Linked DNA regions of Homo sapiens. The protein of the gene in region 1 purifies or fractionates together with the protein of each later gene. This does not show direct contact. Each region holds a gene or a part of one and is shown in the gene's direction. Other genes may lie near its edges. The genes, in order: HHIPL1 and MYCBP2.

The links.
Region 2: the proteins of HHIPL1 (region 1) and MYCBP2 purify together in Homo sapiens (co-immunoprecipitation; 2 studies listed by BioGRID and IntAct, with this or other methods). This does not show direct contact.

Annotation. Positions count from the first base shown.
Region 1 is NC_000014.9:99,675,929-99,681,160, forward strand, and holds the end of HHIPL1 (HHIP-like protein 1 isoform a precursor), read left to right. Parts: 3' UTR 1-4,641; downstream 4,642-5,232.
Region 2 is NC_000013.11:77,057,921-77,065,211, reverse strand, and holds part of MYCBP2 (E3 ubiquitin-protein ligase MYCBP2), read left to right. Parts: intron 1-477; coding exon 478-597; intron 598-2,514; coding exon 2,515-2,616; intron 2,617-3,421; coding exon 3,422-3,550; intron 3,551-3,910; coding exon 3,911-4,043; intron 4,044-5,585; coding exon 5,586-5,689; intron 5,690-6,805; coding exon 6,806-6,994; intron 6,995-7,291. UniProt on the Homo sapiens protein: Atypical E3 ubiquitin-protein ligase which specifically mediates ubiquitination of threonine and serine residues on target proteins, instead of ubiquitinating lysine residues.

The DNA of each region.
Region 1 (5,232 bases):
CCTGAGGAGGGAGGGCAGCCAGGCTTCGAGGACGGACATGGCCCCTGGCTGTGCTAACAGAGGCACAGCTTGCAGACTGAGGGCGGTGGGGAGAACCAGGCTTGTCCTGCCCACAGCTGGAATGGAAGGTGCAAGAACAGCCGGAGGGTGGCCTGAGGAATGTGGCCCGGACAGCATGGCCTGGTGCCCGCATCCCCCCCACCCCCTGGCAGTCAGAGGCGCTGGAGAGAACCGGAAGGCATCCAGTGGGGAAGGGAAAGCCTTCTGGAAGGTGGGAGCAGGGTGAGCTGCAGGCCTGGGGCCCCACTGGAGGGGCAGGCTGCGTGGAGGAGCCAGCACCTGCTCAGGGAGGATGGCTGTGAGGACTGGATGACCTCCAAGGCCGTATGCTGGAGAAGCCACTCAGCAGCATACTCAGTCCTTGTGGGTGCTCCTGGGATGGGACCAGCCTCCTCCAACCCTGAGGCCTGATTCTCTCTTGCTCTTGGGGCAGAAGCCACCCACACTAGCTGGGCAGAGCTTTCACCCTGGCCCTCCAGTGAGTCGGTGGGCCTCCACTACTTTCAAAGCTGTGTTTGGGCCCTGGGGCCACCTCTGTCCTTTCCATCCCCATCCCTGCTCAGTGTAAACCCAGGAGACCTGATTCCTCCAGCCCTACCTCGGGGCTGACCAGGCTGGGGGTCCAGTGAAACTACTGACACTTTTTCACCCAGGGCTATGCCAATAATGTGGCTGTTTACACACCACTTTCCTGCCTCCTCTCTGACCTGCACCTGTGTGGGAGCCGGGGTGGGAACCAGGAGAAAGGGGTGAGGCCTCCCGCTTCCCACCTGCATCACAGGTGGAAGCTCCTTCACTCCAGGGATGCTCGGCCCTGGCTCTGTGCCAGGCCGCAGAGGGGCACTTAGTATGACTGCGCTCAGCCTCGGATGGGAGCACGGGTGGGGGGTGGGTAAGCAGATGAGTCACCAGGCAGTGAAGACAGGATGTGGCCCATGTCGGGGGTTGGAAGAGGTCTGGGTGGGGCACCCAAACCCAACCTATGGGGGGGCTTTGGGAGGGGGTGATGCTGTGCCAAGTTCTGGGAGCTGGCACCAGGGGTGGCTGGGCAGGCCTTGGGGCAGGCATGAGTCTGGCAGGGTCTCCTAGCTGCTAGTATAGGGTCTCCTAGCCACTAGTATAGGATCCTGGGCTGCAGCAGAAAGCTTTAGGTCACTGTCTTGGACTCCTCATACTCTGTGCTTTACAGAATGGGAAACTGAGGCACACAGAGGTTAGATATCTTAGGGCACCAAGCCAGGGAAGGGAGAAGTCAAGTTTGAATACAGCAGCTTAGTTTAGAGTCCCCGCACCCTAACCACTGCCCTCCCCAGCTACACTATGCCTGCAGAGAGCGGTGTGCTGGGGCTCCTGCCTGGTGTGGGAGTGCCAGCCTGGCTGGGAAGCAGCTGATGGAGATCCCTGGGGGCTCCTCTTGCCTGGCAGGTGCCCCCGCTGCTGGCCTCATGCTCCTCTCGGGCCTCCAGTGGCCCAGGGGAGGTTGAGTGGGCATCTTCCTGGGATGCAGGGGAGTTCTGAGCTCTGACGCCGGGCGTGTTAGGAGATAGCAGGCCGTTAATGACCATCCCAGCCGAATTCCTCACTGTGCAGATGAGGAAGTGAGCTCAGGGAGGCTGAGTGTCCCAGGCCTGTTGCCAGATGAGGCCACGCTGAGACTGGAGCCAGGGAAGGTGCAGCAAGCCTTGAGGCCCTCAAGAATGCAGCCGAGCCAGGGCCCTGCTTGCCTGGCCCCAGAAGCTGTTTTGCTCAGAGCTGGATTAGGAGGGTTGGCAAAGGGAGCTCTGGGTGCGGCCTCAGGCCCTCCAGTACTTCTCTGGGCAGTTCGGGCTTTGGCCTTCAGTCTTCCAGGCCAGGCGCTCTTCCTCCCCAGCCTCCAACTCATCACCTCTCAGGCCCCAAACCAGGCCTGGGCTAGGCTGCAGCCTGCCTCCTGGGGACTCACTCCACAGTCCCCAGGTCAGTGGTCCCCAACCTTTTTGGCATCATGGACTGGTTTCATGTAAGACAATTTTTCCATGGATGGGGGTTGGGGGGATGGTTTTGGGATGAAATGTCCCACCTCAGATCATCAGGCATTAGATTCTCATAAGGAGTTCACAGCCTAGATCCCTCGCATGCACAGTTCATAGTAGGTTTCATGTTCCTATGCGGATCTAATGCCACTGCTGATCTGGCAGGAGGCAGAGCTCAGGTGGGAATGCTTGCTCCCCACACTACCCTGCCCCACTGCCACTCACCTCCTGCTGTGTGGCCCGGTTCCTAACAGGCCACCCATCAGTACTGGTCCGTGGCCCAGGGTTTGGAGACCTCTGCCCTAGGTAGTAATAAGAGTGGACAGCTGTTATATGTAAATACTTGTTCCCCGATGCTGGAAAGAAATAGCACTAAAACATAAATTTAATTCTTTCAGCAAGGCAATTTTACTTTCTGCAGAAAGGGTGCTCATCGCAGATGGAACAATAGTGAGAGGACACCTGAACAAAGGAGGGAAGCAATTGTTAGCCCTTATGCAGTTTGTCCCTGCTACTGTGTCCTATGTCCATTGGCAGAAGCCAGACCGCACAATCTAAACTAAAACCCGATTGGCTGTTTAAAATTTTTCTAAATAGGTAAAAGTAATGGAAGGATAAAGGAAAAGAGGAAGTTGCTTACGAAAGGACTTAGAAAAGTAATAATATTCCCAAATAAGGAAGGGGTATAGGCTGTGAGCTGGGACATGCCTGTGAGCACGTCCAGCACAGATATCTTGGTTAAAGTATAAGGACATAGAACGTACTATGTGCCTGTGAGCACGTCTAACAGTTACATAGAATAGGGCTTGACAAAGAGTTATTAGCATAAAGCAAGGAGGTTTGAAGGAAGTTCGTCTTTAAAAGAAACCATTATTTCTAACACTTACGATTTATTCTTTAACAAGAAGGGAAACTTTCAAGAGGAACTTTTACTTTCTACAACAGCTGACCTCTGCTGAGCGCTTACTACATGCCAAGCACTGCTCTGAAAGTTTAACATACCATTCACTCATGTAATCCTCATATTAATGCACATTTACTCACGTGGAAGCCGAGTTCCAGGGCATTTGTCACTTACCAAATGTCACATAGCCAAAATTTGAATTTGAGCCCAGGTAGTCCAGCTCTGGGACCCTGCTGTGGGCCTTCCTGCTGGGCCACCTCAAGGGCATTGAAAGCCAGCCCCACCCCACTGGGACACAAGTTCAGAGAAGGGCAGAGCTGGCTGCCTGTCCAGTGCTTCTTTCACTCCACCACCTACAGCTGGCCGCTGAGGGAGCATTCACATGTGACTCTGTCCCCAGGGACTCCGATCTTGCCTTAAAGTCCTCCAGGGCCTCTGAGGATGGGGGCACAGCCTTCACCCTCACCCCCTCTAATCCAACCTCTAGTCAATAGCCAGGATCAGATTCTCAGAGAGGGGCTGCCCTGCCCAGTGCCACACAGCTTAGTGCTGGAGCCTCAGGGTCAATGCTGCAGGGGTGGCCCAGTGTCCAGGACTGTGTTCAAGACATCAGTCAGAGGTCACAACATCCCAGGCCCTAGACTGAGCCTAGGGGTCACCATGTTGATACCTTAGAAATGTTTGGGAGGTTCAAGGAAGCTGGAAACTGGGTTCCAGTCCTGGCTCTGTGCCTCTCTGAGTCTCATTGCAAAATAGAGGTCACCAGAAGGATTACTGGATGAAAAATGAGGTAGCATTGCAGACGTGCATGGCACGTACACTCTAGGTTGCTTCCTAGACAGAAAGCTCAGTTCGAGGCTGGTGGCATCCATGCTGGCAGCAGCCAACTGTCTGCGACAGAGTGAGGAGGGGCATGCCACGTGAAGGACCAGCATCAGAATGACATGGGAAGAAACTCTCACAATAGCAGAAGAAAGAGCTCCTTCAGCCTAACATGTAGAACTCAAGTCTTCTTGTCGCGCTTCTGTCCCCTCGCCCCTCCTCCCCCACTGAGAACTAGCTTTTACTGAGCAGTTATTACATGCCAGCTACCTCGGGTGTGTCAGCTCATTTAATCTTGACAACAGCTCCACGAGACACCCTCAATATCACTGTCCCTGTTTTCCAGATGAGGGGACAGATTCCTAGGGTGTTATGTAAGTGGTCCCCGGGGCTTTAGAGGCAGGTTTGCACCAAGGCCCATTCTCCCAGAGCCGGATCCTTCTCCTTCCCTGGGATACAGCACCTCCACCCTGCCAGGCCACCCATGTAAAGGCAGCCAATTCAGAGCCACCTCTTATGCCTGCATCTCCCCAACAATTCCTGCTGGGAAACCACTCCTCGTATGGTGTCATCTACACCAGTGGGTTTCAAGCTTGAGAAGAATCAAGTTCTACAGGGCTGCTTAAAACACAGGTTGCTGGGTCCTGTCTCTCAGAGTTTTTGACTCAGTCTTGGTTGAGAATTTTCAGTTCTAGAAGCTCCTGGGTAATGCTAATCCTCCTGTTCTAGGGGCCATAGTCATTGTCCATACTGGTGCTATCCAATAGAAACATAATGTGAGCCAAATAGGTAATTTAAAATCTGCTTGTAGCCATGTTAAAAAAGTAAAACAGGTAAAATTAATTTTAATAATATATTTTATTTAACCCAACATATTCAAAATATTATCATTTTAACAGGTACCTATATATAAATATCAATTTTTTTTTTTTTTGAGACAGGGTCTGGCTCTGTCACCCAGGCTGGAGTGCAGTGGTCCCATCACTGTTCACTGCAGCCTCAAACTCCCAGGCTCAAGTGATCCCTCCACCTCAGCCTCCTGAGTAGCTGAGACCACAGGCATATGCCACCATGCCTGGCCAGTTTTTTTGTTTGTTTGTTTGTTTTCATTTTTTGTAGAGAAGTGGTCTCCCTATGTTGCCCAGGCTGGTCTTGAGCTACTGTTCTCAAAAGATCTATTGCCTCCACCTCCCAAAGTGCTGGGATTACAGTTGTGAGCCACTGTGCCTGGTGACCTTTTTTTTCCATTCTTTTTTGGTATTAATCTATGATATCTGGTGTGTATCTTACACATAGCACATCTCAATTGGACTAGCCACATGTCAAGTACCAGAAAGCCACATGTGGCCAATGGCTGCCACATTGGATAGCTTACTCCAGACCCTCCAGTGAAGGAGCAGGTGGTTGGCCACGTGCTTCCAGGCAGCGCTGCCC
Region 2 (7,291 bases), on another chromosome or scaffold:
ACCTAAATTATATGATAGTTAAATGTTTGTTCATTACAAATCAAGGTAGCAAATAAAGGTAGTTGCAGTTTGAACCTGTTTATATTTTAGGTTCCTGTAATACTCATCTAAAGCAGTTAGCTTCACTGTGTAAATTTTATGCTAAGTGACAAACTTCTCAAACATAGATAACCTTAGTATTTCTGTTATGTTTTTATCAGATGTGAGAGTAATTGCCCTTGATTTCCAGGAAAAGAGTATTGAGAACTTAATTTTTTATTTATTTATTTTTAAATATCAAAATGATGATTAGAAGTTGAATTTTCCATAGGATCACGAAGAAATTTTAGTTCAAAAGTTTGTGCCCATAATCTAAAATTCCATGGTCTCACTAAAAACAAATATTTCCTTTGATAGGAGATGTTATTTAAGAAAAAAGAGTTTACTATGGTAATACATTTCTGGTCACTTATTAAAATACTCTGTTCTGCTCAATAGGGTCATCTGTCAGAAGCTTGGTCCCGAGTGACAAAAAATGCTATTGCAGAAACCATCATTGCCTTGACCAAGATGGAAGAAGAATTTAGGTCTCCAGTGAGATGTATTGCAACAACTAGAGTAGGTTTTGCTTTGTTTTGTTTTGTTTTAAATTTGGTGTGTATCATTGCGTGTTCTTTTTTAGTAATAGATTTAAACAAATTTTAATCACTAAGTCAACATAATTATTTTTTAACCAAATACCGTATTTATTGAAAAAGTATAAAGGGCTTTTATATTATGAACTAGTCGTTACTTCTCACTGTTATGTGTTCTGTGTCACTTGTTTTTGTTATTGTTTAGGAAGCCAAGGGTACACTGGTTAGAAAAGGCTAATTACATTGTACATTGTTTGCGTGTTGTCTTTCTAATGATCTGTTTGCTGTAGTTTACCACAGTAAGTTTAGTGCCAGCATTATGCTGTGATAGACCGAAGGTCCTTTGGAGACAAGACCCCTGCCTATGCCTGGTTGTTCCTAATGTAGAGCCCTGTAACTTACTTACAGGATTTATAGGTCTTACTTCTAAAAAGCAAGAAGTGCTTGTCCAGGGCAGGGTCAGGGTGGAAATCTTTGAGGAAATGAGATTGCATTCTTCAGATGACACATTTATAGTAAGTTTTAACCTGCTAGATTTCATGTCCCATATACTTCCAGAAGAGATTTGAGATTTCCTTGAAGGAGGGCAGTCTGACAACGTTAGGAAGAAGTGAATGCTGGTAAAAATTGCTTAGGTTAATCCTCAGAAATCTGAAGAAGATAAACTATATATCCCTAGGGCGGAAAAAGTCAATTTATGCTATCTTGCTATTATTGACTGTGACACCTGAAATAGGTATTTTTGACAGTAATCCTTTCCTACCACTCATGTGTTGCTTTCTTTCAGTCTGCATTCCCCTTCCTCCTTGCATGCATTATTTCTTTTTCTATTTTTCTGTCCCTATTTTAACATCTCTTGCTTTCTGTATCCAATAACACTCACATGCACTTCTTAGAGTTGAGCTAGTTAAGTCATTTTCTATTCTTCATTAATGAGGGGATATATCATTCTATATAAAACTGAAGCTTACCCTTTAAGCCTCAGAAATTTTTAACTATTTCTGAAAACAGTTGTCTTTTTTTTTTTTTTTTTTTTTTTGAGACAGAGTTTCACTCTTGATGCCCAGGCTGGAGTGCAATGGTACGATCTTGGCTCACTGCAGCCTCCGCCTGCAGGTACAAGCGATTCTCCTGTCTCAGCCTCCCAAGTAGCTCGGATTACAGGCATATACCACCACACCTGGCTAATTTTTTTTGTATTTAGTAAAGACTGGGTTTCACCATGTTAGTCAGGCTGGTCATAACCCCCTGACCTCAGGTGATCCACCCACCTTGGCCTCCCAAAGTGCTGGGATTACAGGCATGTGCCACTGTGCCCGGCCCTATTTTGGAGAACAGTTTTCTAAAGCTTTTAGACATGTATGTATTTCTGACAAAGTGCACCAAGTATAGTATTAGGCTTTCTGGGGCAACAAGGGGCAACAAAGACTTCTGAGGAACTTTTATTATCTAGAAGGATTTAATGTGTACCTGACTACTCATGGGACTGTACACAATTTAGCAGTTGCTGTACCACCTTCTTTGGCATTTAATGATACTAAATGGAAAAATATTCAGAAGACATTAGTAGTAAATATTAAATATGCCAATTCATTTATTCATATGTTGTTTACATAGTAGACCAATAAAGGATAATTTTATTTGTCAGATAGAAGACAGGGTGGTTCATCAGAGAAACAGTCACTTGTTCAGTAGATATCTGAGTGCCTCCTGTGTGCATGGCACATAGGACAGTGATCGTGTATGCCTGCTACCACATCAGGAAGACTTGAGTGCCACTGAGTATCTATGTATTTTCAAAATCAGCCAGCATTTATTGAGCTGTTGTGATGTGTCACAGTCAGCATTTCATAAGTCTTTCCTAAAAATTCAGTGGTGTAACAGCCTTCCCTTTCAACAGCTCTGGCTTGCTCTCGCATCCCTATGTGTTCTTGATCAGGACCACGTAGATCGTCTCTCCTCGGGGAGATGGATGGGAAAGGATGGACAACAAAAACAAATGGTAAGATCAGAATTTTGTAAGAATTTATCTTGCTTTCCTTTACAGTAAGCTTTAGCTTAGCTTAAAAACAAACAAACAAACAAAAAACACATCAACATAAACAGTTAGTGGATCTCTTGAAAGATTGTGTCCCTTCGGCCAAGTTCATCTCACAAGTCTATTTCAGAGAGTCCCTACTTCATAGTATATGGAAACTTTAGGGGCTTTTATTTAAGTATATTAAAGAGCTTTCTTCTTCTCTGAGTCATGTTTGCATCATATCAAAATTTATTTTTAGCCAGAGTCTGATTTAGTGACTAGATATTTTACTAAAATGTAATCAGTCTTATGGTAGGAAGGAAATAAAGCAATAACACAGGCAACATGACACACCACCTGTTCACATATATACTTAAGTAGGTTTGATGGGTATCTTTAAGTTCACTAGAAAGGAAAACTTTATATAGGCCCTTTCACCATTTTCTTATTAATGTTCAAGTTTCAAAAATAAACAGTTTCTTCCTTTGGCATACAGAATGTTTAGATATATAATGGGGCAGACATTTCTTAAGTCTCTAAGTAACAAAGTATACCTGTTCATTGTATTAATCATTGAACCTGCAAAGCACATTAATGATTGGATTTGGAGTTTTGAGAGATTTTTATAGTTAAGTACATTTGCAATAATTCTGTTTAATATTCAGATTCTAAATTCTTAATAGACTTCCGAATAACGGTTTATTTTTGTAAATAAATTATATTCAATTTGTATGAGAGTCTGAGACTTGCTTGTTAATCTAAGTAACGTGGAAATGTCTTATTTTAGCCTATGTGTGATAACCATGATGATGGTGAAACTGCAGCAATCATTTTATGCAATGTCTGTGGAAATTTATGTACAGACTGTGACAGATTCCTTCACCTTCATCGAAGAACCAAAACTCATCAAAGACAGGTGAAGATTTTTGTCTCTGGAGCATAAAATATGTTCAGTGAATTTTGAAATAAATGTGTGAAAGAGGCTTTGTGTAGTAGGGGGAAAAAGTGGACTTTGGAATCAAAGACCTTGGTTGAGTTCACAGCTGTCTCGCTTACCATCTATAAATAGCAAGTTGTTTTATCCTTAGAAACACTTAATTTCTCCATTTATAAAAAAGGGACTGCTGTGAAGATTAAAGAGAAGATTGGAAATATTCAAAACTTCTTAGAGTGCTTAAATGAAAGCCATTATTATTATTGAATAATTAAATTTTATACTCTCCCTTTCAGAGTGATAAATAAGCATATTTTTCCCTGTTCTTTAATGAAATAATAGGTCTTCAAAGAAGAAGAAGAAGCTATAAAGGTTGACCTTCATGAAGGTTGTGGTAGAACCAAATTGTTCTGGTTGATGGCACTGGCAGATTCTAAAACAATGAAGGCAATGGTGGAATTCCGAGAACACACAGGTAAAAGGTTTAAAGATTGAGCCATGCCTTTAAAACCCACAAAAAAAGATTAAACCGTGCCAACTGATTAAACTGTGAATAATTTTGAGTGATATTCTGATGTTTAATTATGACATCATTGATCTATATATTTACTAAATATATAGAGTGTTCTATGGTGAAGAGAGCATTAGACCAAAAGTCAAGAAACCTGATTTGCCACTAACTAGCTGTGTGGTGTCGAGCAAGTCACTTAACCTCTGGAACTCATTGACTTCATTTATAAAGTGAGAGGATCACAACTAATGGGGCTCCATAGATAAAATACATTTCTATTGATAATTCCCTTCTAGTTCTGCTAGTTGTTGCCCCACAATAAAAATTGCTGCACTAGATGATCACTAAGATCTCTATTTATTATAAGGTTGTATGATTTTATGATATTTAGAGGTTTTTGTAGACCTAATGCTTCTGAAGGTGTTGTGAATGGTACTGTTTCCATTGATAGCAATAAAATAATTAACAAAAATGAATAGACATAAAACAAAAGGTAACCTATGTATGTTAAATGTATTTTTATCTCTAAAACATAGTTTTCATTTTGCTGCTTTTCTAAAGTAAATCTTGTATATTCCTAGTTCAAAGTTATGTTGAATCTTACAAATTCTCAGTTTTCAGCACATCTGCAGTCTGCCATTTGACTGACACGAACTTCCAGTGTTGGAGTTAGGTGTAAATCCGAATCAATTTAATTCTAGGGTGACTTTGCATGCTGCAAGAGCATGACCTTCTTTTCTCATAGTTGATTTCTTCCTCCTATAATCTGTCAGTGCTGTATACTGCATTAATAAATGTTCTAATGTCAAACCATCCTTGTAAACCATCCTTTTTAAATAGATTTTTCTGTAAATATTGCTGAATTCAATATATTGATATTAATTATAGTTAGATTTTTATATCTGTGTTTAAAAATCAGCTTGGTCTGTAATTTTCAAATCTTCACGTTCTTTTTCTTATTGCTCTGTTCTTGTTTTATTGATTCTGTTTCTTCTTTAAGTATTTCAAACATATTTAAATTCCTTTTCAAATTGCAGAGTTCCTGAGGTAGGAATTCTGTTTTTCAAGTTTCATACTCTGATGATAGGCTTTATACCATGCCTTATAATTTTGTTATATATAGTTAAAGATTTCCCTAACTTCTGTGTATTTTTATTTAATTTTTGGTTATCATATTTTTTATGGTATTGTGCATTTGGAGTCAGGGGCTTGTAACAGCTGCTCAGTCTGGTAACTTGACTAGAAGTCTAGTCTGTTTCTTTCACTGAAAAAAAATATTAGTCGAGAGTGTATTTGGCTTCAGATAGGTCTTTAATTTCTTTTTTTGTGTGTCATTATTTACTTTATAATTAGGACAACTTAGAAACCTTCCGTTCTAAAACTGTCAGGCTGATTTCCCAAGGATAGCAACTTATACAAACCTAGTTTGCTTTTTAAAATTTAGTTCTGTTAACATATCTAGAAAACATCCATAAGAAGGATTTTTATTTTTCTGCTTGAACCTAGGCAAACCCACCACGAGTAGCTCAGAAGCATGTCGCTTCTGTGGTTCCAGGAGTGGAACAGAGTTATCTGCTGTTGGCAGTGTTTGTTCTGATGCAGATTGCCAGGTGAGTATATAGTGACACAGGCCATCCCATTGTCCATGTTCCCCTGTGACACCTTTACTTCATACAGAAAAGAGTTTTAGCTCAGCGTCACTCCAGCTTCCTAAATGAGTGTATTACCTATGTGAAGCATCAAATGCCTTACCAAAGTTGAAGAATGGGTCAAATAAGGCTCTCAAGCCCAAACCACACTCTTTTTGTATGTTTCTCAGTTACCATGATCATATGTATTTAATATCTACTTTTGTACTAGAAACAGTTAAAAATTTATGAACTGTATTTCCTTTATCTCTTACAGACATTATTCACTTATTTCCTTAAAATACATTTTCAACATCTAAGAGTTCTTTAATCCTGAACATATATAAACATATTCTATGTTGTCCAAATGTTTTTGGTTTCTCAATTAATAAGAATGTGGATATGCTCAGAGAGTCAAAGGTACCTTTTTAAAAAAAAAAAAAATCTGCATTTTGGTGATGCGGAGAGTGGTGACTGGGAAATTATACATTGGGGAACTTTTTTTATTTTTTATTTTTTTGAGACGGAGTCTGGCTGTGTCGCCCAGGCTGGAGTACAGTGGCACGATCTCGGCTCACTGCAACCTCCGCCTCCCGGGTTCAAGCGATTCTCCTGCCTCAGCTTCCTAAGTAGCTGGGATTACAGGCGCGCGCCACCATGCCTGGTTAATTTTTGTATTTTTAGTAGAGATGGGGTTTCACCATATTGGTCAGGCTGGTCTCAAACTCCTGATCTCGTGATCTGCCCACCTCAGCCTCCCAAAGTGCTGGGATTACAGGTGTAAGCCACGACTCCCAGCCAGGAACTTTTTGCTTTATAGCTGTGCATGATGACAAATATGAAATTATAATTCACTTATCAGCATTCCCTTTATAGAGAGTGGCATTTTTTAAAAATCGCATCAAAAAAAAAAAACTTTGTTAAGAAGCCTAATTTATATTCAAACAAAGATTAGAAATAACTTTACTTTGTTGTTACTTGGCCTGCATAGATACTTCCTGTGGGAAAGTAATCTTTGGAAATTTATATAATAAGGAAAATTACCAGAATGTGTGCTTTTTTACATACTTGTGTAACATTGTAATTCATCTTTAACAGGAATACGCTAAGATAGCCTGTAGTAAGACGCATCCTTGTGGCCATCCATGCGGGGGTGTTAAAAACGAAGAGCACTGTCTGCCCTGTCTACACGGCTGTGACAAAAGTGCCACAAGCCTGAAGCAAGACGCCGATGACATGTGCATGATATGTTTCACCGAAGCGCTCTCGGCAGCACCAGCCATTCAGGTTGCCTCAGCTTTTAAAGTATTGAATGTATCCAGACATTAAGATGGGGAATATATTTGTCAAATAAACATTGATTGAGGCCGGGCGCAGTGGCTCATGCCTGTAATCCCAGCACTTTGGGAGGCCGAGGCAGGTGGATCACGAGGTCAGGAGATCGAGACCATCCTGGCTAACACAGTGAGACCCCGTCTCTACTACAAAAATACAAAAAAATTAGCTGGGCGTGGTGGTGGGTGCCTGTAGTCCCAGCTACTCAGGAGGCTGAGTCAGGAGAATGGCATGAAGCCAGGAGACGGA